Linked DNA regions of Homo sapiens. The protein of the gene in region 1 interacts with the protein of each later gene in a biochemical or structural test. Each region holds a gene or a part of one and is shown on either strand. Other genes may lie near its edges. The genes, in order: RTKN, MFHAS1, FRMPD1, GRIP2, TJP2, LIN7A and SNTG2.

What was found.
Region 2: the proteins of RTKN (region 1) and MFHAS1 form a complex in vitro, tested with the Homo sapiens proteins (one large-scale study listed by BioGRID and IntAct).
Region 3: the proteins of RTKN (region 1) and FRMPD1 interact in a test that uses a peptide from one of them, tested with the Homo sapiens proteins (one large-scale study listed by IntAct).
Region 4: the proteins of RTKN (region 1) and GRIP2 interact in a test that uses a peptide from one of them, tested with the Homo sapiens proteins (one large-scale study listed by IntAct).
Region 5: the proteins of RTKN (region 1) and TJP2 interact in a test that uses a peptide from one of them, tested with the Homo sapiens proteins (one large-scale study listed by IntAct).
Region 6: the proteins of RTKN (region 1) and LIN7A interact in a test that uses a peptide from one of them, tested with the Homo sapiens proteins (one large-scale study listed by IntAct).
Region 7: the proteins of RTKN (region 1) and SNTG2 interact in a test that uses a peptide from one of them, tested with the Homo sapiens proteins (one large-scale study listed by IntAct).

What each region holds. Positions count from the first base shown.
Region 1 is NC_000002.12:74,428,637-74,431,937, reverse strand, and holds part of RTKN (rhotekin), read left to right. Parts: intron 1-1,260; coding exon 1,261-1,322; intron 1,323-1,419; coding exon 1,420-1,473; intron 1,474-1,568; coding exon 1,569-1,686; intron 1,687-1,900; coding exon 1,901-2,110; intron 2,111-2,995; coding exon 2,996-3,090; intron 3,091-3,200; coding exon 3,201-3,301. UniProt on the Homo sapiens protein: Mediates Rho signaling to activate NF-kappa-B and may confer increased resistance to apoptosis to cells in gastric tumorigenesis. May play a novel role in the organization of septin structures.
Region 2 is NC_000008.11:8,782,854-8,785,630, forward strand, and holds the end of MFHAS1 (malignant fibrous histiocytoma-amplified sequence 1), read right to left. Parts: 3' UTR 501-2,777; downstream 1-500. UniProt on the Homo sapiens protein: Probable GTP-binding protein. Functions in innate immunity and more specifically the inflammatory response as a regulator of the Toll-like receptor TLR2 and TLR4 signaling pathways.
Region 3 is NC_000009.12:37,702,954-37,706,453, forward strand, and holds part of FRMPD1 (FERM and PDZ domain-containing protein 1), read left to right. Parts: intron 1-3,500. UniProt on the Homo sapiens protein: Stabilizes membrane-bound GPSM1, and thereby promotes its interaction with GNAI1.
Region 4 is NC_000003.12:14,519,843-14,523,342, reverse strand, and holds part of GRIP2 (glutamate receptor-interacting protein 2), read left to right. Parts: intron 1-267; coding exon 268-343; intron 344-1,555; coding exon 1,556-1,701; intron 1,702-1,720; exon of another isoform or gene 1,721-2,149; coding exon of another isoform or gene 2,150-2,198; intron 2,199-2,805; coding exon 2,806-2,953; intron 2,954-3,063; coding exon 3,064-3,233; intron 3,234-3,500.
Region 5 is NC_000009.12:69,222,777-69,226,276, reverse strand, and holds part of TJP2 (tight junction protein 2), read right to left. Parts: intron 974-3,500; coding exon 870-973; intron 256-869; coding exon 102-255; intron 1-101. UniProt on the Homo sapiens protein: Plays a role in tight junctions and adherens junctions. Acts as a positive regulator of RANKL-induced osteoclast differentiation, potentially via mediating downstream transcriptional activity.
Region 6 is NC_000012.12:80,927,935-80,931,434, reverse strand, and holds part of LIN7A (protein lin-7 homolog A), read left to right. Parts: intron 1-3,500. UniProt on the Homo sapiens protein: Plays a role in establishing and maintaining the asymmetric distribution of channels and receptors at the plasma membrane of polarized cells.
Region 7 is NC_000002.12:1,265,349-1,268,848, forward strand, and holds part of SNTG2 (gamma-2-syntrophin), read left to right. Parts: intron 1-2,016; coding exon 2,017-2,223; intron 2,224-2,723; coding exon of another isoform or gene 2,724-2,747; exon of another isoform or gene 2,748-3,500. UniProt on the Homo sapiens protein: Adapter protein that binds to and probably organizes the subcellular localization of a variety of proteins. May link various receptors to the actin cytoskeleton and the dystrophin glycoprotein complex.

The DNA.
Region 1 (3,301 bases):
TAGACTGTTGATCTGACAAGTCTATAATGACTTAAGTGATGCCATGATAAAACCAAAATATTGGGGAAAATATTTGGCAAATTATTCTAAGAATATGCCAATTTGGATAAAGTGGTCATTTGGAGAACTGGTTTTTAGGAAAGTGGCCTACTTACTCCACTGAGGCTGCTAGGGGAAATAGTCCCAGCCCCTCACAGGTATGGTGCCCATTCCAGCCATGAAGGCTGACACAAGAGGAGGTTGCCAGGAGCTCACCCATGAAGCTACCAGAAGAAGGCAGAAAACCCACTGTATGGCTATCCCATGAAGCTAGAGGAAGGGCAAGCTGGTGGGGGGACAGCCTCTGAGAGGCAGCATGGACAGACTCTGTCCTGCCAAAGTCCTCACACAGCCCACACAGGTGATTTGAGGTACACCCCAAGTGCCTGGCAGCTAAACACATTGCCATTAGTGCCACATCATTTAGCTTAAGGCTCTACTAAGTCAGTAATTACTTTAGTGGCATTATGAGTAAGTACAGATGAACTGGCAGTCGCTTCAGGAAAGGGACACATGGTGAGTCCTGATGATGGGCAGGGAGGGAAGGAAGGTGGGGTGTCGGGCCCTGCAGTGGGGTGTGGGGGAGCTGCAGAACTTGGGGCACTAGTAGGGTACACCATATCAGGCCAGGAGGAAAAAGGAGAAATCAAAGTTGGGGAGTGGTAGGGAAGGAAAAGGGTCTGTAGTGAATGGAACGTAACTCTTCCCTATTGGTGATTTTCCTTTGAACAAATGTTGGCCAAATTATTTTCTGACCCAGTACCCTCCTATATCAAAGAAGTGATGGGATGGTGGGAAATAAGCAGCTTTCCTATTGTTAAAAAAAAAAAAAATAAAGACTGGAGACCCCTCTAAGCCAGGGGTTTAATGGAGAGCCCTGGAAATGAAGTCTTTCTGTGGGCACCTGTCCCCTCAAGGCTGCACCTGTCCTTGGCAGGGATCTGGAGAGGTGGTCAGGGAGGTTGCTTGGAGAGAGGAGCCCTGAGCTTGTGCCTTATGTGTGAGTTAATGTGGCTTGAGTGTCCCTGGTGTCCCCAAGCCTGGCAAACTGCTGGGTTCAATGAACAACTTTCCCTTATAGTCCCTCAGCCCTGCCTGTCGGCCTGGCTGGGAACCTGGTGGCTGAGGCGCTGGGATCAGGGGGATCCTAGAGTCGTTGGGACCAGAGCAAGGGGGAATAGTGGCTAGAGGCCAGGCCAGGACATTGTGATTTATCCACAGGCCTTCTGACAGTGGCCCGCCCGCTGAGCGCTCCCCCTGCCGCGGCCGGGTCTGCATCTCTGGTAAGAAGCACAGCTACCCCAGCTGCTGGTACCCCTTGCCCAAGCACACGGCCTCCTGCCCCATCTCAACATCTATTCTTACCCCTCTGCCCCTTAGACCTCCGGATTCCACTCATGTGGAAGGACACAGAATATTTCAAGAACAAAGGTGGTGAGTTCCACACACCCTGGGACAAATTCAGGGGAATGACCCTGAAGTAGGAGGCTCTCGTGGGACGTGTTTTTTGTTTTGCCCTTTGTCCCCAGACTTGCACCGCTGGGCTGTGTTCCTGCTGCTGCAGCTGGGGGAACACATCCAGGACACAGAGATGATCCTAGTGGACAGGACCCTCACAGACATCTCCTTTCAGAGCAATGTGCTCTTGTGAGTACCTCACACTGTGGCTACCTCCTTCCTCCACTCTGCTCCAGTTCTGGATGAGCGAGTTCCAGGGGAGGAAGCTGGGATGGGGGCAGGGTGGAGAGGAGGGGCACCTGGCCTTCTCTGTGGAGCTGTCCTGCACTTGCCTCACCCACATCCCCTACCCTCTGCCTCCCTGGACTTTCCTGTGACCACCCTCCTTTCTTCCTCCCACCAGCGCTGAGGCGGGGCCAGACTTTGAACTGCGGTTAGAGCTGTATGGGGCCTGTGTGGAAGAAGAGGGGGCCCTGACTGGCGGCCCCAAGAGGCTTGCCACCAAACTCAGCAGCTCCCTGGGCCGCTCCTCAGGGAGGCGTGTCCGGGCATCGCTGGACAGTGCTGGGGGTTCAGGGAGCAGTCCCATCTTGCTCCCCACCCCAGTTGTTGGGTAAGGCCTTGCACACCGACACCACCCTCAGCTGCCTGTATTCTGCCCACAGGTGACCTTTGAACTGTGTTGAGTGTGCAGAACCCATTTTGCATTGCTGCCAGGATGTGCAGACAGATATGAATGAGCAGTGGCCACGTAGCTGGGAGGCATTCCAGCCCACGCCCCAGAGCTGGGCTGAAGCCAGTCCAGAAGACCAGTGGGAAGGCAGGGAGACTTAGGCCCTGGGGTCTTACCTTTTTAGCAGCAGCAAATACATTTTATTTTTAGAGACAGGGTCTCACTATGTTGCCCAGGCTAGTCTCGAACTCCTGGGCTCAAGTGATCCTCCCGCCTCGGCCTCCCAAAGTGGTAGGATTACAGGCGTGAGCCACAGCACTCAGCCTAGCAAATACATTTTATGTGGATAGAGCAGAGCTTCTTGGTTGGAGCAGAGTACCCTGGGACCTATGGTGGTACCTAAATGCACCTGGAGACACCGCATGGGACCACTGAGACTCTGAGAAGCAGTTTGAGAACCTTTGGGTAGTGAACAGAATACTGATTTTGGACATAGATATGGGTTCAAATTCAAACTCCCCCACTTTCCACCTATAAATTATGGGCAAGTTTCTTAACCTCTCTAAGCCTCAAGCTGCCTCATCTAGTTGAAGAATGCCACCAACCTCACAGGGCTGTCATAGGAATACAGTGGGATAAAACATATAAAGCATACGTCCTGACACTTAGCTGGAGCTCGGTAAATGTTCATTCCTAACCCTCTGGGGAGGCAAGCGAGTTTTCTGTGGGGCAGTCTGAACAATGGGGCAGATCTGCTCAGCCCTTAGAGTTCCTGCTGGCCAACATGCCCCTCCCTTGGCTGATGCTCTCTCCTATCTCCCTCAGTGGTCCTCGTTACCACCTCTTGGCTCACACCACACTCACCCTGGCAGCAGTGCAAGATGGATTCCGCACACATGACCTCACCCTTGCCAGTCATGGTAAGTATGTGTGTGCATGGGGGACATACACATGTGATGGTGAGAAGAGGGGCTGTGGGATGGTCCCCTTCTCATTCCCCTACCTCACCCTGCACTTCCTCCTCCCCCAGAGGAGAACCCTGCCTGGCTGCCCCTTTATGGTAGCGTGTGTTGCCGTCTGGCAGCTCAGCCTCTCTGCATGACTCAGCCCACTGCAAGTGGTACCCTCAGG
Region 2 (2,777 bases), on another chromosome or scaffold:
CACGTTAACACCCTGGCTTTGGTCCTTCCTTATCTTCTCTTTGCCTTTATTTAAACAATATGGAGTACTAAATCCTCTGATGGGTACCTGAGGGGCCTGCTCTTCCAGTTTGCAAATAGGGCACCCTGAGGCAGTATGTAGCAGGACTTCTGCTAAGAGCCTTTGAAAGAAAGATCAGGGGAACTTCCAAAGCTACCATAAATTCAACAGCTGTGACTTAGGAATATAGTGGATCATTGAAAAAAAAAAAAAGATTCTGATTTAAGAGAGCTGATCTTCAAGTTATATCCTCAGCCTGAAAACAGAGGCAGTTTTAAAACAGGGATTCTTTAGTTTTCTCTTCGGAGACCAAACAGATGAGAGCTACCACCACCCACCTCCCACAGCTCCAACAGTACCACTAAGGACTAAAACTATAAAAGTCATTCCTTAACTGATAGAATTAAAAGTAAAAACAAATGAACAAAATCTGAAATAATTAAGTTCTGGGAATACAACTGTTTAACCATTTCTTTGTATTTTTATTGATTTTTCTTTTTTAATTTCTGCCCAGTTACAACAACGAAATGGGAAACCACAATTAAAATTCACAAACCATGGCATGAAAAACAACACGCACCCCATCAGGAATTACACCAAACCCCTTTTCCTTTTTATTCATTCAAAAGAGAGTCCAATACACAAGTGTCAAATATGAGCACTGTCATTTTTTTTTTCTTAGAAGGGGGAAAAACATTTATTTTGGCAGTGCTTTGACAATTCCAGGAAGTGGTTTTGATACCACAAGTTGCAGGAATAGAAACCCTAACAAACTTGGAGGGCATTTGTTTGAGAGGCAAGGGACGCCTTGCTTAGAAAACATTCCTCTTGTGCTTAGTGAATCACCTATCGCCTCGGTGGGCTGCTGTGTCTTTCCAGGTGCTGAAAGAGAAAACGGAATTTCTTGCATAGACAGCTGAAGAGTCCTGTAGAGCAGAGTGATTTTTGTATCTCCAACCCTCCTCCCAACTTGAAACAAATTCTCAAGCTTCTCTGGAGCATCTTTTGGTCACATGACCCTCGATCATGGTAACCCTTTTGCTAAGACACATGTGACACCAAGGTTTCCTCTGACACTGCTTCTCTAGGGTTCAGATGACAGCATAAAACATCACTGGTCAAAAATATTAGATATTAAGAATGTGGGCGTTTATGTTCGTAACAGCAAATACTTTGTAGGGTGTGTCACCCAAAGGAGCATTTTTGTCATTTAATATGGTCCCCGGGGAGTTAGCCCAAAATCATACAAATAAGCCTTTTTCTAAAGACAGGTCAAAGTTGGTTAATTTAACAGTTGAGGAACCGTCTCATGCCAATTAAAAAATTCTTACTTCCCAACTATTCAATGGTCCAAAAAGCAATTAAATGTGACCATTCAGTTTTACACACATGCACACACACACACACGGAGACGCGCACACACACACGAGAACTGTGACAAAAGGATTCACCAGATTAATCTTGTGACTGTGTTCTAAAAGAAAATGAAATCTCAAACTTGAGGTGTCCTATTCAAGTATTAAAAAAATGCAAACATCGTCTGATCCCATTCGATTTTTATCATCATAAGAAATCATTCTCTGAACTGCAGGTTCTGGAGTCAGTGAAATTAATGCCTGGGGCACAAAATATTCTACAAAAATCGGTTTGTGATTTCTAGCAGGGCAGTCGCTTGCTCCTTATTTCTTTTAAAAAACATGTTGAGACTTTGTATACTGTAGCCTTCCAAGAGTCAATACTTTACAAAAGAAGTAAAAGAGTAGCGAGTACCAGCAACTCACTCTTCTTGTCTGAGGCTGGCGAGAAGCAGTCAGTTTTATACATTTTCGATCAACCCACGGAGGAGGCAAATGTAAACAGAGTTTTTTACACTCTCCGAAAAACATGTTACTACTGTAGCATATGCTGTTTGGCCCAATTAAAAGTAGAATGGAGAGCAATTTGTTTGGTTGGCTTTTTAAGTTTTACCTTGTGAAGATTTTAAAACAAGGGTATTACTAGTTCTTGGCAGGAGACCGTCCAATCAGAGGCTCTGTATTTATAAATAACCCGTGTGGGATTATGCTCTCCAGTGAATGTAACTGGAGCCTAAATTCACAACCTTAAGATCTGACAGCCAGATGTGGAAGGTCTACAAAGAGCTCTGCTAATAAGTAATATGTTTGCAAAGTGCTCTGCTAAGTAAGGTACTTATTAAGCAGAGCACTTTGTAAGATTCAGAACTGACTCCTGATTATCTTAAGCCATTAAAAGACTCAAGTTTTGCATGGACTTTTTGTCCTCTTTGGCCCCTGAGTGTGCCCCATCTCTGCCCAGCACTAATAACACGTTGGAAGAGCAAAGGATTTCCCACCAGCGTGCCAGATGATTTATATAGGCAGGGACCTTCATTGAAAAGAAGGGAAGGGACACTGTCTTAAATGCACATTTAAGGTTCTTTCTGATTATTGGCAATCTCTATGAACCAACACTTAATCCATGGGCTAACAGAGAGATTTTTTTTTTAATGTGAAGAGGATTAAAGAATAAAGAAAAAACAAAAAAGTCTTATACTAAAATAAGAAATCAGCCCCATCTTGGCACAGTTCTCATGCAGAATATTGCACCCAGTGTGAACTAACGCTAGAAGCTTCAAACTGTATAAATTTAAATGTATTTGCATATTATAAAAATAAAGATAAACATATACATATTTTACACTAGTTATGGAACAGCAATGAACGTCAGTCGATCCCTCT
Region 3 (3,500 bases), on another chromosome or scaffold:
GCTGAGATTGATATTTTTGAATACTTAAGAGCCAGGGTTTATTGAACTCATACTCTGTTCTAGAACTTTACTAGGCATGGGAGACATGGAGATGAATGGGTACCACCCTTGTCTTCTAGGAACTCATGGTCCAGGATAAATAATATGATATTTTTTCCTTTGTGGTCATCAGTTCAAGGAATACCGGTCAAAATGGTAACAGAAGATCAAATTTAAAATTTAAATTCATGGTACAGGTTCACCAATGATTTCCTAGAGAGATTGAATTGCCAGTTTGTATTGTCATTCTTTAATCTCAGGACTAGTACCTGTTGGGCCTTATTATTTTTATTCATATTTGGTATGACACATAATAGTACTCCATAGCCCTTTCAGTTGTGCTTCTTTGATAAGGTTGTACATTTTCTGTGTTAATTTCCAGCTTGCTTTCTTCATGTGAGAGTTGTCAATTCACTTGCTTTGAGCATGTGAAATGTGGGTATCTACTATGTGTATTTATGCCCATTCTTCATATATTTGTATTATAAGCTTTCCCCACTTCAGGATTTTTTTAAATTTACTTATTTTCAGCTGCTTTATTGATAGATAATTTACATACCATACAATTCCCCCATTTGAAGTGTACAATTCAATGGTTCTTAGTGTATTCACAGATCTGCAACTGTCACAAGTCCATTTTGGAAGGTTTTCATCCCCCACAAAGGAAACCTATACCTATTAGCAGTGACTCCCAAACCTCCCAAACCTCCCTCCCTGAAGCCTTGGACAACCCCTAATCTACTTTCTGTCTCTATAGATTAGTCTGTTCTAGATATTTCATGTTAATGGAATCATACAATATGTGGTCATTTGTGACTGGCTTTCACTTAGCCAGATTCATCCATGTTTCATTCCTTTTTATTGCCAAATATTCTGTTCTGGAATACGGTATTTTATTTATCCATGTCATTAGTTGATGGACATTCGAGTTGTTTCCACTTTTGGACATTTACAGAAAATGCTGCTATAAATATTCATGTGCAAGTTTTTGTGTAGACATTTATTTTCATTTCTCTCCGGTACATACCCAGGAGTGCAATTGCTGGATCATGTTGTACACCATGTTTAGTCTTTTAAGAAACTTCCAGACACTTAAAGGACTTTCTAGAATTTCTATTCAGTTTCATTGGTGAAAGCCACACTATGCAGTTTTGATTATTGCCTTTGTCTGAAAGGAGTGCTTACTTTTCAACTGTAACTTTTCTGAAATCTAAGTATTTCTGATAGAAATTTAGAGTTCAAATTGATACGCGCTGTAAGTGTAAAATAGACCCTGGATTTTGAAGACTTAATATGAAAGAATGCAAAATCTCTCATCAATAATTTTTTGTATTAACTACGAGTTGAAATGATACTATTTTGGATATATTGAGTTAAATAAAATATATGTTATTAAAATTTATTTCACTTATTTTTTTCCTGTTTTTATGTAGCTATTAGAAAACTTAAATTTACGTATGCGGTGTGTATATTTCATTTGGACCGCACTGCTCTAGAAGCAGTGCTAGTGTGCCTATTGAAGAAAGTAGCCCCAATTTGAAACCTGCTTCCCAGCTGTATGACTTTAAGCAAGTTAAAATCTCTCAGAGCAAGATTTAGTCTTTTCACCTATAAAACAGGAATAATAATTGTACCCACCTCAAAAGTTTGAGGGTTGAGTGAGATATATATATATATATAATGTTAAATCACTCCCTAAAATATAGTTAGTATTCATAAATGTTATTAATTATTATTGTCGTTATTGCTGTGATTACCATCAATTTGTCAAGTTGTTTTTTAATCTGGAAGAATTTTTTATTTATATTACATTAAATCTCTATTTAATTTAGAACTTTTTTTTTTTTTGATACTTAGTGTTTCCATCCAGGAACCCAGCATAACTTTAACCCAATTATTGTGTTTTCCTTTATTGCTTTAAGGAAAGTTATATTATTTTCTTTAAATAAATCCTTCTTCCCCTGAATTACATTAGTACACATCACTAGTTTTGTTACTTGAATCCTTTCTTGGCATTTTCTAGATATTTAGCATTCACTCATTAAGAATGCCTAACACCGAATGTACATTCAGCTAATCTGCTTTTAATGAATTGTTTGATCCTTTTTGTGGCTGTGTTTTGTGTTTTTATCCTGCATCTCCACTAAACTTATCTTCTGGCACTAAAAATTTTCTTTGTTCATCATTTTCTGTGTGAATGTCATCTGCTAAAAAACAAAAAAAAAATAATAAGGTGGTACTTTTCCATTCCTGTGCTCATTATTCCTCTTGTCATTTTTCCTTCCCTGATAACTATTATTAGCATTTATCCTACTACATTAAATAAAACACCAAATTGTTTGTTTGTTTGTTTTTGAGATAGTCTCGCTCTGTCACCCAGGCTGGAGAGCAGTGGCATGATCTCAGCTCACTGCAACCTCAGCCTCTTGAGTAGCTGGTACCACAGGTGTACACCACCAAGTCCTGCTATTTTTTTGTATTTTTAATAGAGACAGGGTATTGCCATGTTGCCCAGGCTGGTCTTGAGCTCTGGGACTCAAGTGATTAGCTAGCCTCAGCTTCCCTAAGTGCTGGGATTACAGGCATGAGGCACTGCACCTGTAATGTCAAATGTTGATTTTTGACTTTTAGTATAGAGTGTTATTTATTGCATTTAGAAAAACCTTTTTATAGCTCTAAATGTTTTTTACAAAATCAGGAATAGGCTGGGTGCGGTGGCTCCTGCCTGTAATCCCAGCACTTTGGGTGGCTGAGAGGCAGATCACTTGAGCTCAGAAGATTGAGACCAGCCTGGACAACATGGAGAAACCCCATCCCTACTAAAAATACAAAAAATTAACCGGGTGTGGTAGCACGAGCCTGTAGTCCCAGCTACTCAAGAGGCTGAGGCATGAGAACCGCTTGAACCAGTGAGCTGAGATCATGCCACTGCACTCTAGCCTGAGTGACAGAGTAAAACCCTCCCTCAAAATAAATAAATAAATAAATAAATAAATAAATAAATAAATAAAAGATTGAAAAAAAATCAGGAAGAGCTATGGGCTTTATTTAGTGTGAATTTTCAGTTTTCTGTTTCTTCCCTCTCATTAGGTCTCTCTGCTGCTCCAGCTCAGTATTACCTGCATGCTGGCCTAGAAGAAAGACTCCCTCTGCTTCTAGGTTGTGTGGGCTGGGTCATCTATTCATACAGATCCTAAATTTGCTCTAAGTCAGGGCCTGGGGGGGATCCTTGGTGGATAGTGTACACGAGACTTTGGACTTGTGCTTGTCACTTACATTTTGGCTCTGTGAGACAGTTTTTCATATTTCCGGATCCTTGTTGAAACTGGAGATCATTATAAATGAGAGGGAGATGATTTTCAGATAAGTGAGGGCCTATTGCATTAGGCAGGGTTCCTGAAAGTGTTTGGTAAATGGATGAGAATAAATGATAGACCTTAACCGCAGAGTCCCAAGACAGC
Region 4 (3,500 bases), on another chromosome or scaffold:
GATCAGGGAAAAGGGGAAATAAGGTGAGGTCACAGAAGGGAGGCAAGCCATTTAACAGAGAGAAGACTTTGGTCATGTTACCCACCCCTTGCACCATCTCTTGGGAGGGCGAATTTATTGTTGGTGTCTCATAAGAGGGTCCATGGATAGCAAGGACAAGGTCCTCAAACAGGTTTTATTGAAGGAGCCTGCTCAGGGGCTGTGTGGGAGCCTCTGGATGGGAAGGGGTGGGTGGATGATTCCTGCTTCTTGTCAAATCCTGTCCAGGAGGTGCCCATGAAGATGGGCACAAGTCCCGCCCGCTTGTCCTGACCTACGTGCGGCCCGGTGGCCCTGCCGACAGGTGAGCCGAGGCAGAAGAAATCCACACACTGCACTGACCTGCCCCAACTCCCCTGCGAAGAAGGTGGAGTGGGGTCACCATGCCCCTTCCCCAGATGAAGAGATCGAGGCCCTGAGGGAACACTCCCTGCCCGGTGTCATTCAGGGAGTTGTTGATGGAACCGGGATGTAACCCCAAATGAGGGAAACCTCGAGCCCTTTCTTCCCCAACATACTGCTGTCTCAGGGGTTGGGGTGTTTGGAGAGGGGCAGCCTTGGTGTCGTTCTTCCCTTTCCTGCTCCTTGGTTTTCCCGTCTGTGGAATGGTCCCTAAGAGTTGCTATGAGAGATTTGGGGGCACGCTGATTGGCCACTGCTGTAGCCGTCTGTGACTCAGTCTCCTGGGTCCTGGCTGATCGACCCAGCTCGGCCCCGCCTGGGCCCAGCCCAGAAGGGCCAGGAGGAGAGAATGTGGGGAAAGAACATGTCCAGTTCCCAGCCCCTGATCCCTCGGCCTCCCCAGTGGGAGATTCCTGGCCATTTTAAGAGAAGCCTGGAACGGCCTTGTCAGAAATCTAAATCTGTCCTTGGGACAGGGCCCTGTGATGAGCTATTCATAGAACCCCCGAGAATAGCTTTGGCCACCTGTTGGGAGAGGCGTTCCAGGCTGGGGATGCGACCCAAACCGAGGTGAACCCTGCTGGGGCCCCTCCCCTGGCCCCTGTTGAGTTCTTTCCCAGGCGCGGGTTGTCATCAGGCCAGAATCACCGCTGAGAAACCAGGGTGAGGGTGGAGCAATGGGAAGGGACCAGGACGGCTCAGAGCAGCCCCCAATGCCGTGTGGCATGGGCACAGCTTGCACCCTCTCTGGGCCCTGGTGCTGTCCTTTGTCCCTGAGGCAGGAGTTGGGGGTGACGCTTGAAGAGCACCCCCAGCTCAGACATTTCAGGGTTCTGCACTGAGTCTGTGAATTACTGCACACCCAGAGGAGTGGCAGGCGGCAGAGCCACCCCATCCTGTCTTCATCCCCCCCTTGCTTTATGCAGCTCCCCACTCCTGGAGTGGCTCATTCCTTCACTCACTCATGCGCCCCTTCACCCGTCCCCTCCTCCCCTTCCTCCCCCACCCATTCCCTGCTTCTTCATCCTCCATGTCCCGCTTCCCAGCGCCCTCCCAGACAGGCTGTGCCCAGTGCTGCTGCCGGGCCAGGCTGGTGACTGGCCCTTCCCTACAGGGAGGGCTCCCTGAAGGTGGGCGACAGGCTGCTCAGTGTCGATGGAATCCCGCTGCACGGGGCCAGCCATGCCACCGCCCTGGCCACCCTGCGGCAGTGCAGCCACGAGGCACTCTTTCAGGTGGAGTATGATGTGGCCACCCCTGGTGAGTTGGGGGCCTGAGTGTGTGGGTTGGGGCAGGAGGAGGCCTGGGATGGGGGGAGGTGGCAGTGGCCATGGATCTTTACCACTGCAAAGGCTGCATGACCTTATGACCTTGGGCCAGTCACAGCTTCTCTGGGCAGTAAATAGTATGTGCTAGGCATTGTTTGATGTGCTGGGGATCCAGCCTAGAACAACAGAATTGAGGTGTCTGTTCTCATGGAGCTGGCATTCTGGTGGAGAGAGGACAGTATCCAGAATAGATAAGATATGGTGTATGTCAGTTGGCAATAAGTGCTATGGAAAAAAGAAAAGAGGCAGGGGAGAGAGATGGGACAGGCTGGGGGATGCTCTCTCACTAGGGGAGTGAGGGAATGAGCGAGGCATGGAATGTCCAGGGACAGCATTCCAGGAGGGCGGAAGAGTAAGTGCAAAGGCCCTGAGGCAGGAGCATGGCCAGCATGGTTGGTCACAGTGAGGAGGCTGCCGTGGTTGGCACAGGTGAGTGAAAGGAGGTAAGGGCAGAGCAGGGTGAGGTGGAAGCCGGGAGGCCATAGGAAGCGGCAGCAGCTGTCCAAGCGAGAGCTAAGGGACTGAACCAGGCTGGTGGCTAAGGAGGGGAGAAGGCACGGGATTCAGGAAATATGATGACGGTCCAGCTGGCCTGATCTGCTGAGATTTAGACATGGGTGGGCGAGGGCAGGAGCTAAGGGTGCGGCCAAAGTTTTAATTTCCAGCCACTGGGTGTGTTAATGGAGGTGCCATTTCCTGAGATGGGGATGGGTTGTAGTGAACTTTACAGTTTAGTGCTGGTATACCACAGGCTCTTCATAAACTCAAGCAAATTCATTTCACCCAGCAAAGCCCTGGGATCACAGCCCCTCAGACCTGAGCTCCTGCCCCTCCTCCACTGCTATCTTATCTGTCAAATTGATATAACATTTGGTAGAAGATAAAAAAAGAAAGAAAAGGAATAAAAAATTATGTTAATCAAATGGGTATAACAGTTTCTTCCAGGCAGCAAGGATTAAATCAGGATAGCAGGGTGAGGCTGGGGAGGAAAGTGCTCGGTATTTGCATTTCAAACTTTTTTTCTCCGTCATGCCAGACACGGTGGCTAATGCTTCGGGACCCTTGATGGTGGAAATAGTCAAGACGCCAGGGTCTGCCCTGGGGATCTCGCTCACCACCACCTCCCTCCGGAACAAGTCAGTCATTACCATCGACCGCATCAAGCCAGCCAGCGTGGTGGACAGGTAAGGCACACCCTGGGTGCTGCCACCATGGAGGTGTGTGCAGGGGAGAGGCGGCCCAGAGCTTTGTCTGGCCTGGACCAGCCTCCGCCTTCACTCCCCTGCCTGGCCAGGAGCGGAGCCCTGCACCCTGGAGACCACATCCTGTCCATCGATGGCACCAGCATGGAACACTGCTCGCTGCTTGAGGCCACCAAGCTCCTGGCCAGCATTTCAGAGAAGGTGCGGCTGGAGATCCTGCCTGTGCCCCAGAGTCAGCGGCCACTGAGGCCCTCAGAGGCAGGTGGGTCCCCTCAGTAGATCTCAGGGCCCAAACCTGGGCAGTCATGAGGCCTGAGAGGCCTGGGACCAGAGCCCTGGGCAGGCTGGGAGGAGCAGGCTAAAATGTACTAGGACAAATCCTCATTTGCCCAGGGAAGCTCAAATTATTAAGAGCAGCAACTGAGGGTGGGAAGGTGGGGCAGAGAAACAACTTGAGGGTTTGAATTGAGTCTGCTGGCATAGATGCCCCAAAGCTGGTTTCATCACTGGTTGCATTAATAGGAGTATA
Region 5 (3,500 bases), on another chromosome or scaffold:
AGAAATTTAACTTCCAGCTGGATAGCTACACTAAATAGAAGAATGGGGAAGCAACAGCCTTCCTTACTTCCAGCTAAGCTCACAGCCTCCTCTTCCTTTACCTTCTATTTCTGAGTCACTGTCATTTAATGACGGGATGTTGATGAGGGTCTGCTGGCTGTCTCTCAACACCACTAGCTGTAGTTTTCCTCTTGACTTTTCTATCAATTTTCGAGCATCCGTTAAAGACATGTTCTCAGTTACAGTCCCATTGATCTGTGTTTATAAAAAATGGTAATGTTAAATGCAATAAAATTATTCACAGTAGAAAATTCATATTTTCCCCTTCTAAAAATGTAAAGGCTTTGCTCAGATATTCAAACAGATATTGGCTTTAGGATGACTCAATAAAAATGAATTGTCGTTTAAATTAAATATAATCCTGCATGCCTGGATCCCAAATACAGGTGTAAGTTACTCTGCTAATTTATTTAACTTCCAAGCTCAAGACAACGGTTTGGTTTACTACTGGAACGTGTTTCCTGACTGGAGAGGTTTACAAGACCTATTAAATATTCAGCATTCATATATCACCAACTTTCCTTCTCATCTTTCCTTAGTTTAGGGAATAGGGATCTAAACTTTAAACAGGAAAGAAGAAAATATTCATGGAGTTTTTTTGTTTTTGTTTTCTAAACTGACATTAAACTGTTACGACCCTCAATGTCTGGTTTTTCTGATAAAAATCGTCTCATTATGCTGCTCTTGCCACCTCTGTCTTACCACTGACTCTCACTGGATCTAAGTCTCACTGTGTGGGTGCTGAATGTGGACATGCAGGCGATGAACGGCAGTATGCACACTACCGTTCTCTGCCCCCATCTACCCACCTTGAGAATTATGTCTCCTTCGTGAAGGTTGCCATCTTTAGTTGCCAGACCCGTTCGGGTCATTTCCTTTACGAAGATCTGACTCCCAAGCCGGAGACCATACTCTAGGAGACAAACACATAAACATACACGTATGTTATCAATTTGTTCAAAAAACTTAGTCTGGTTTATAGGACTATTTTAAAATATGTATTAAAAAGTTAATTTTGTATATGGGAAATTCTGTAAGATGACTGGCCTGAACTCTTCAAAAAAGTCAATGCCATAAAAAACAAAAAAGGTAGAGAAACTGTTCCAGATTAAAAGTTACATAAAAACCAAATGCAATGCATGAACTACCATAGGTCCCTGATCCAGTGGAGGGTGGGGGAAGAATGAGTTACATCATTTGGAGCAATCTGAAAATGAACTATAATATATGAAAGGGATATTAATGTTAATCTTCTTAAGTGTTATAATGGTATTACGGTGACTGATGTAGGAGAATGTTCTTATCTTTGGAAGATACCTCTGAAATATTTATGGGTAATGGTGAGTTGCCTGCAACTTACTTAAATAGTACCAAAAAACCCACTGAGAGAGGTAACAGGAAGGGTGATGGAGTAGAAGGAAAGAAAAAAAAAGGAGGAGGAAAAAGAAAGTGTGGCAAAATGTTAACAACTGGTAAAACTAGATGAAGGTTATATGTTTATTTGCTATAAAATTAACATTTTCTTTTTCTTTCTTTTTTTGAGACAGAATCTTGCTTTGTCACCCAGGCTGGAGTGCAGGGGCATGATCTCAGCTCACTGCAACCTCTGCCTCCCAGGTTCAAGTGATTCTCCTGCCTCAGCCTCTCAAGTAGCTGGGATTACAGGTGCCCACCACCATGCCCAGCTAATTGTTGTATTTTAGTAGAGACAGGGTTTCACCATGTAGGCCAGGCTAGTCTCGAACTCCTGACCTCAGGTGATCCACCCGCCTCGGCCTCCCAAAGTGCTAGGATTACAGGTGTGAGCCACTGCGCCTGGCCAAATTAACACTTTTCAAATAAAATGTTGGGGAGAAAAAAAAACAATTCAGCACACCTTAATAGGCATGTTCTGCTGACAATGAGGCTGTCTACAGGAAGGCACTGCAAAAAATCTAGCATTTTAGATTATATGAAGCTTGGCATTGAAAGGAATTCAGTGGGTGAAGAAAAGGGGTAAAGAAGTCAGGCAAAGTAATTAATAAAGCATTCAACTAAAACCAGCATAGCTTTGGGAGTTTATGGACTCTGAATTGCTATCAAAAACAAAAACATTGTAATTACTAAGTTATGCATATTTTTAAATACTTTCAATGCTACTTAAGACTCTTCTGGTTTTACTTAATAAACTTGTAAAAATACATTATTTTAAGAATAACTGTTCACATTTTAGGAAACTACCACAACAGAGCAGGTTTTAAAACAGGCACAAAATTTTTTATTATTGTTCAAACTAAAAATCTTATAATTACAAAACAAAGTAACTTTCCACAATTCAGGAAAGGTATGAAGTCAATTTTAAAATAAGTTTTAAATGATTTACGGTAAACTTGTCAGCCAGATCTTACCACAAAGATTAGAAGTGTTGTGGCCCATGCCCTAGTCCTTTAGGAAGCTGATAGTCAAGAATGGAATAAGGGAAGGGCAAAGCTACTTTCATGGATGGCGAGCCCCTAGTGGTCAAACAGCCTCACAGCCCAGAACAGAAGGCTGAGTGAGACAAGCTTGAGTGATAACATCTCTCTGGCATTTTTCAACAATTCCTCAATCCTCTTAAAAAATGCACTCATTGGCCAAGCATGGGGGCTCACGCCTGTAATCCCAGCACTTCGGGAGGCTGAGGTGGGCGGATCATGAGGTCAGGAGATCGAGACCATCCTGGCTAACACGGTGAAACCCCGTCTCTACTTAAAACACAAAAAATTAGCCGGGTGTGGTGGCGGGCGCCTACAGTCCCAGCTACTTGGGAGGCTGAGGCAGGAGAATGGTGTGAACCCGGGAGATGGAGCCTGCAGTGAGCCGAGATCGCGCCACTGCACTCCACCCTGGGCGAAAGAGCGAGACTCCGTCTCAAAACAAAACAAAACAAAACAAAACAAAACAAAACAGAAACGAAGCCTCCTAACACACAAGGTTCTTGTGAGGACTACGTAAAAGAATATTCAACATAGCCCTTGCATAGAGCAGAAACTCAACAATGATTAGGCGGAGTACTGTCCTCCACTGTGGTTTTCCACTTGAGATGCAGCAAGGCCACTAGGAGAGCTTATTAACATAGAGACTCTGAGGGCCCACCCCATGGTTTCTTTTTTTTTTTTTTTTTTTTTTCAAGACAGAGTCTCGCTCTGTCACCCAGGCTGGAGTGCAGTGACATGATCTCTGCTACTGCAACCTCTGCCCCTTGGGGTTCAAGCTATTCTCCTGCCTCAGCCTCCAGAGAAGTGGGGATTACAGGCACCCACCACCACGCCCACCTAATTTTTGCATTTTTAGTAGAGATGGGGTTTCATCATGTTGGCCAGGCTGGTCTCCAACTCCTGACCTCAAGTCATCCGCCCACCTCGGCCTCCCATAGTGCTGGGATTACAGGTGTGAGCCACTGCACCCGGCTCCACCCCATG
Region 6 (3,500 bases), on another chromosome or scaffold:
TCCTGACCTCAGGTGATGCGCGTGCCTCAGCCTCCCAAAGTGCTGGAATGACAAGCAAGAGCCACTGCACCCAGCCTGTTTTTTATTTGATAATTAAAAGTTACAAAGAGAATGACTCAAATCTCTAAAGCATTTTGGTTACAAAAATAAGAAATTTGGTGAATCCTTTCTAGTTTGGTGTGTCATTCATCCGAGCCCTGAAATGTATTTGGTGTGCTCCTGTCAGTTATGAAATTAATGCTCTTGCTTATGAGTGTTGTTTTTCAGGGATCACAACTAAGGCCTAGCTCTTAAGTAGAGGAAAGAAAACATCTAGGGAGTACTATCAAACAGGAAGGTGTCCTGGGTATTAGAGATGGTGTTATATGCACAATGCCAGTATCTCTTTGAGTTCTTTTCTTAAAGTCATGACATTTGCCTGTTAGGATATACTTTCCATCAGGTCAGAGACCATGTCGGGTTTGTTTATGTAGAACCCAGCACATTGTGTGGCACATAGTTGGCACGCTCTTTGTATTTGTTGATTGAATGAGTGAATGAATGAATAAAATTGGCTTAGCAAGACTTAGCTGTCATGGATTATTCTTAATGCAACAAAACAAAACAAAACAAAAGCCTTCTAACCTAAAATAATGAAAAGTAGTGGCTACCTTAGGATGTCACTTTGCCTCTCTGTGTATGTAGCTGGCTCCTACAAGTGTAGTGCTCTCAAGGGCCAAGAAAGAATGTGAGGTGTTGGTTTTGATAGTCATAGCCCTGTTTCAGTTGTCTGCATTTACCCTGCTGTTTTAACTTATGAATTGAATCGCACGAGCTAATGTCAGAATACAACTGAAAAGGTTTTTTAAATGGGTGGAGTTGCTATAGAATTGCCCCCCTCCACACACATATATATAAGCTACGCTTTTCAATTTTTTTAACCATAAATACATGAATGACAGAACTATGTCCTAATAAACAAATTAAAATGGATTTAACTTGAACTCACTCTGCACTACCAAATGTGAACTTAACCTTAAAAATTGTGTTAATTTCATCCATGCCTTAGTTCTGGTTTATTCAATTGAGATCTTTAAAAAAAAAGATTGAATTTTGCTAAGTAATATACTAACTGAATTCAAACACTTGTCCAATAAAAATAAATATGCCTGAAAACCACTTGAAAAAAATCATGAGGGATTGAAACTTATTTTGTAGTTATATTCAAGTATCTACCTATCTTGGACATAAAGCTAGGGTGTCTAATTTCCATTGATGGTAATTTTCCTTAGAAACAATATAGCTAGTCCAAGTCTAACTGTTTGTGCAACTTTTGTTTACTTGCCCAGTGTGGAGATAGTTATATTTCAATATAACATCTTTTGTTTTTAAATTAATCAAAGGATTACCTTTAACTAAAAAAAGATAGAATAATGGGAGTCACAACATGGCTATAAGATTTAAACCCACAAGATAGATGGAGAAACATAGCATGAAATCACAGCTGGGTCTATTTAACAATAATGAAGAAAAAATTGGGGAATATAGTTGAGGGACTGCTGAAAGTGATTTTTGAGGAAAATTGGAGAAGAGCAGTAATTGCTGATGGACAAATAACCTGGCTTCCAAAAAGATGACAAAGGTGTTTTGGGAAACTATAGGGCAATCTATTTGTTGCCTCTTGGCCCATATATATATTTTAAAATATATATAAAATGTGTGTGTGTGTGTACATATATATATTTAAAAGAATGAGATATTGGCACTTAGAAAAGAAAGTGGTGATCCCAGAGGCTACGTGGAAAATCACTAAGAGTAGACATTGCAGAAGTTCAGACATATGTCATAGTCTCATTATATATTCATGACCCCACAACTCTCACAGACACCTTGTGGAAAATGTGGAAATACATAAAGTGGATGATTGCATTGTTGGATTTCTAGTAGAAACACTTCTCCAAGGAAGTTTGGTTCATGGTCTTGTTTGGCACTGTTACCAATATTTTGAATGAGCACCATAGAATATATTTTAACAAACTTTACAGGTGACTAAGCTAGGAGGAATAACAAATAATTTGGCCAACCCTACCAATATTCTAAAATTATTCCTAGCTTGAATGGCAGGTTACAATAAAAGAGATAAAATTTAGAGGAAATGAATGTAGCCTTCATTTATTAGATTGAATCAAATTAGAATGCTGATTGCATATTGATTGTACTGGTGTCTGACTGGAATAATCTGGTTTAAGAGTATTTTATTTGGAAAAGATTGAGGACTTTATTTATTAGGTTGGTGCAAAAGTAATTGAGGTTTTTGCCATTGAAGGTAATATCAAAGACTGCAATTACTTTTGCACCAACATAATAATAAATTCATCATGAGCAGTGTGATTAAATTATCAAAATATTATAAAAACTCTCTGGAAAATTAAATATAAAACTAGTTAATATTAATAATGTAGAAAAACACTAATACAGCATACCCTAGCAGGGATTATTTAAAAGATATTAGAATAACTGTATTGGTATATTAATCATGTTAATAATAAGTTTTAAAACATGATGAAAATTAAACTCAATACAATACAAAAATTAACTCAAGATGGATTAAAGACTTAAATGTAAGACCTAAAATCATAAAAAACCCTAGAAGAAAACCTAGGCAATACCATTCAGGGCATAGGCATGGGCAAAGACTTCATGACTAAAACACCAAAAGCAAATGGCAACAAAAGCCAAAATAGACAAATGGGATCTACTTAAACTAAAGAGCTCCTGAACAGCAAAAGAAACTATCATCAGAGAGAACAGGCAACCTACAGAATGGGAGAAAATTTTTGCAATCTACCCATCTGACAAAAGACTAATATCCAGAATCTACAAAGAAACAAATTTACAAGAAAAAAACAAACAACCCCATCAAAAAATGGGAAAAAGATATGAACAGACATTCCTCAAAAGAAGACATTTATGCAGCCAACAGACACGTGAATGTCATCACTGGTCATCAGAGAAATGCAAATCAAATCCACAATGGGATGCCATCTCACACCAGTTAGAATGGCGATCATTAAAAAGTCAGGAAACAGATGCTGGAGAGGATGTGGAGAAATAGGAACACTTTTACACTCTTGGTGGGAGTGTAAATTGGTTCAACCATTGTGGAAGACAGTGTGGCGATCCCTCAAGGATCTAGAACTAGAAATGCTATTTGACCCAGCGATCCCATTACTGAGTATATATCCAAAGGATTATAAATCATGCTACTATAAAGACACATGCACATGTATGTTTATTGCAGCACTATTCACAACAGCAAAGACTTGGAACCAACCCAAATGTCCATCAATGATAGACTGGATTAAGAAAATGTGGCACATATACACCATGGAATACTATGCAGCCATAAAAAAGGATGAGTTGATGTCCTTTGCAGGGACATGGATGAAGCTGGAAACCATCATTCTCAGCAAACTATCACAAGGACAGAAAACCAAACACCGCATATTCTCACTCATAGA
Region 7 (3,500 bases), about 73 Mb from region 1:
CACACATTCATGTTCACATACATTTCCACACATACACATGTTCATGTGTGCACACACATTCTCATGTGCACACATACACACACACATGTTCTCACGTGCACACACCACAAGGCATTTGATGTCTGGATGATGCACAGGGATAAATGTGCAATGCTCTCCATGATCAGAGGGTCATCCTGCAGAGCCATCTGCGGGGCCAGGAGAGCCAGGGCATCCCCCCGGAGAGTCCAGAAGGCCCACCTGAGACACACCAGTCGTAGCTTTTACCTCAAACCTGTGCCTAGAGTGCATGTGTCAGCATATTTCAAGTAAAACTATTTGGCCAACTGCTGAGTTCATGTGGATTTTGGGACTGGACCTTGAGCGTAAGTGTGAGTGGGGACTGTCCAGCTTGGCTGGTTGGCACAAGTGAATGGAGATATCTCAGAATCATGATGGGAAGACCCAGCAGGTGGGCAGCTCCCCTTCCTTTCTGCTGCCATATGCAGGGCTGTGGGTGAACACCACATTCTCATTCAGGACTTTGGAAACCCCAGCCCAGGTGTCTCCCCTTGTTTCCCTTCACTGGGGAGAGACTGGTGCAGCAAAATTGATGTTGGGGTGCAGCGTCCCAGGAAGGTGTCTGGTGGGGGCTCTTCAGGGTGGATCTGTGGACCAGTAAATGAATGGGTGAGCTGAGAACTGAGGTGGGTCCAGAGAGAGACAGACAGAGACAGAGAGAAGGATAGAGAGAGACAGAGAAACAGACATAAAATAGAGAAACAGAATGACAGAAATGGAGAGAGAGAAAGAGACACAAAGAGAGACAGAGACATAGAAATGGAGACAGAGAGAGAGAGAGAGACAGACAGAGACAGAGAGGTGCCAGCCAGGTATTGAGTGCGCGTTCACCATGCACCTCCATGCTGTTGACCTAGTAATTGTGACAACTGGGACCCCCAGTCTTTCTCTTCTGCCCTTGATAAAATGAATCCCGAAGTGGGGTGCAACCTTGCAGATGGGGGAAAGAAGTGGGGAGCTCCCCAGGCTGCTCCATGCAGCACAGGCTGGCAGCATCCGAATCGCCGAGTGATTAATAGACGTGCTGTAAGTAACTTACATCTCTGGGTTAAACGATTAACCAGAAATGGAACAACATCATTACATCATTCCCTTTGTCAGGCCTTTGGGTTGGCAGAATGAGCTCCTGGGTGGCCGGGTGCCTTGTCATGCTTCAGAGGCGTTTTGGGCACTCGGTCCTTTATCTCAGGACAATGAACCCGCAAGGAGAGGAAGAGCCAGTAATTCTATAGAGACTCGGAGGCGCAGGGGGCACGCTTAGTTAGAGTGGTGGTGGTATTTTCAGTGTTTTCTGGTTTTATGATAAACACAAGCATCAATGTCTCAAGACTTTCATCTTTATCTTTTTTTTTTTTTTCTTGAGACAGGGTTTCCCTCTGTCACCCAGGCTGGAGTGCATTGGTGGTGTGATCTTGGCTTTCTGTAACCTCGGGCTTCTGGGCTCAAGCCGTTCTACTACCTCAGCCTCCCAAATAGCTAGAACTACAAGCGTGTGCTGCCACACCTGGCTAATTTGTTGTATTTTATTTATTCATTTATTTTTGTGAAGACAAGGTCTTGCCATGTTGCCCAGGCTGGTCTCAGACTCCTGGGCTCAAGCAATCCACCCACCTTAGTCTCCCAAAGTGCTGGGATTACAGGCGTGAGCCACCACACCCAGCTTCATCTTTCTCTTCACCGTAAAACAGGAAAGTGTGTGGTGACCAGTATTTTAAGGGAAAGGCACTTACAGAGAATTAAGCATTTGACAAAATTTATTTACAGATATTTGTCTGTGGACCACTTCCGCACCAGCTGTGCATGAGAGGGCTCATTGCTCTGAATTTGCCTCCTTGTCTGCACCCAGGAGACCGTTTCCCAGATCACGCAAACGCTGCCTTCTCCCCACACCAGGGCCCTCAGCATGGGAATGACCTTCCAGCGCTGCACGTTTCCAATCCATGCTCTGTTTTTCAGTTCTGGCTCACAGAGGACTGCTGGTTGCAAGCAAACTTGTATCTGGGTCTTCAAGATTTTGACTTTGAGGACCAGAGGCCCTATTGCTTCAGCATCGTGGCCGGCCATGGGAAGAGCCATGTTTTCAACGTGGAGCTTGGCAGCGAGCTGGCCATGTGGGAGAAGTCCTTCCAAAGAGCCACGTTCATGGAAGTTCAGAGAACCGGGGTAAGTGAACAACTCACACTCTTCTCACCTACACCTGCTCGGGTGTCTGAGACATAGCATTGGGGAATATGTAGCAGTTTATCGGGGGAAAAGAGGAATCTTCAGAAGGTGAGAATCTTTCACCGGAGCTACTGTGTGGAAATGATCGTTCGCACGGAGTCATGCGCTCCGTGGATAAATATGAGCTGTAGTGGAAGGGAAGGGGAGGAGAGGATTTTGTGTCTGTGTCTACATTGAATGTGAGGAACGGGCTGCATCGCTTTCCAGGAAGGGACTCCACCGATGTGGCGCTCAAGTTCCTGAGAAGTGATGACACTTCTAGCCTGTGCTCCGGGAGACAGAACACCTAGCTTACAAATGAGTATAATGTGTCGTGCAGTTACTTGGATGTTTGTAATATTTTAAGGCACTTTAATGGTTCTTCCTCTCAAACTTGATGGTCCGAAGGAGAATATAAAACAGCTTGTGTGTCTGAATTGCTTTTCTCTTCCTGACAACAGCAAATACATCACTCACAAATTTGAATGTATACCATGTGAAGGGATGAGGAAGAATGCATTATAATCCTCCTTATCCTAAATAGCGGGATGATCCTTCAGGGAGGATGTGTGCTGCAGGAATGAAGAGTGACAGGAGATAAATGAGGCAGCGCATCCCAGAGGAGCTCTGACTTCACACCAAAGTCCAGGGCTCCCGCCTGGCTGAGCGCGGAGAATGCTGAGTGTGAACTTAGTAACTAAAGATGGCTACTTCATTTAAATATACATATATACCTTGAATGTGAAACTATTCTGTGTTATTTATCTTTCATTCACGTTGTCAAAATGTATCCAGGCTCCTTGGCATGCCATCACAGAGCACGAAGCTTCCCTGTAACTAATGCACACTGAGATCTCTTAGTCCACAGAATGAAGTCACACCCAGATCTTCATAGAAACTGATGCCAATGTTTATTCTCATTTATCCCAGGCTGCTGTGATTTTCCCCTCAAATTGGGCACCCTAAATTGGAATTATGGTTGATTCCTGATGCTTAAAGTAACCTTTATATTTGAAGCATCCAATTCATTAACCATTATAGAACATTACATGCTGGAAAGAAAATTACTAAACATAGGATCCTTCATCTCAGGGACTTACTCAAATGTATAGTGGCATTTAGCCACTTAGAAACCATCAGCACTAAAGGTTCAAGTCGTTAAAAGGCAAAGTGAAAGAGCGTTTCTGGGACAAGGTGACCTTTCTGCTTGTTTTCTTTAGATGATAGCAGTAATCATT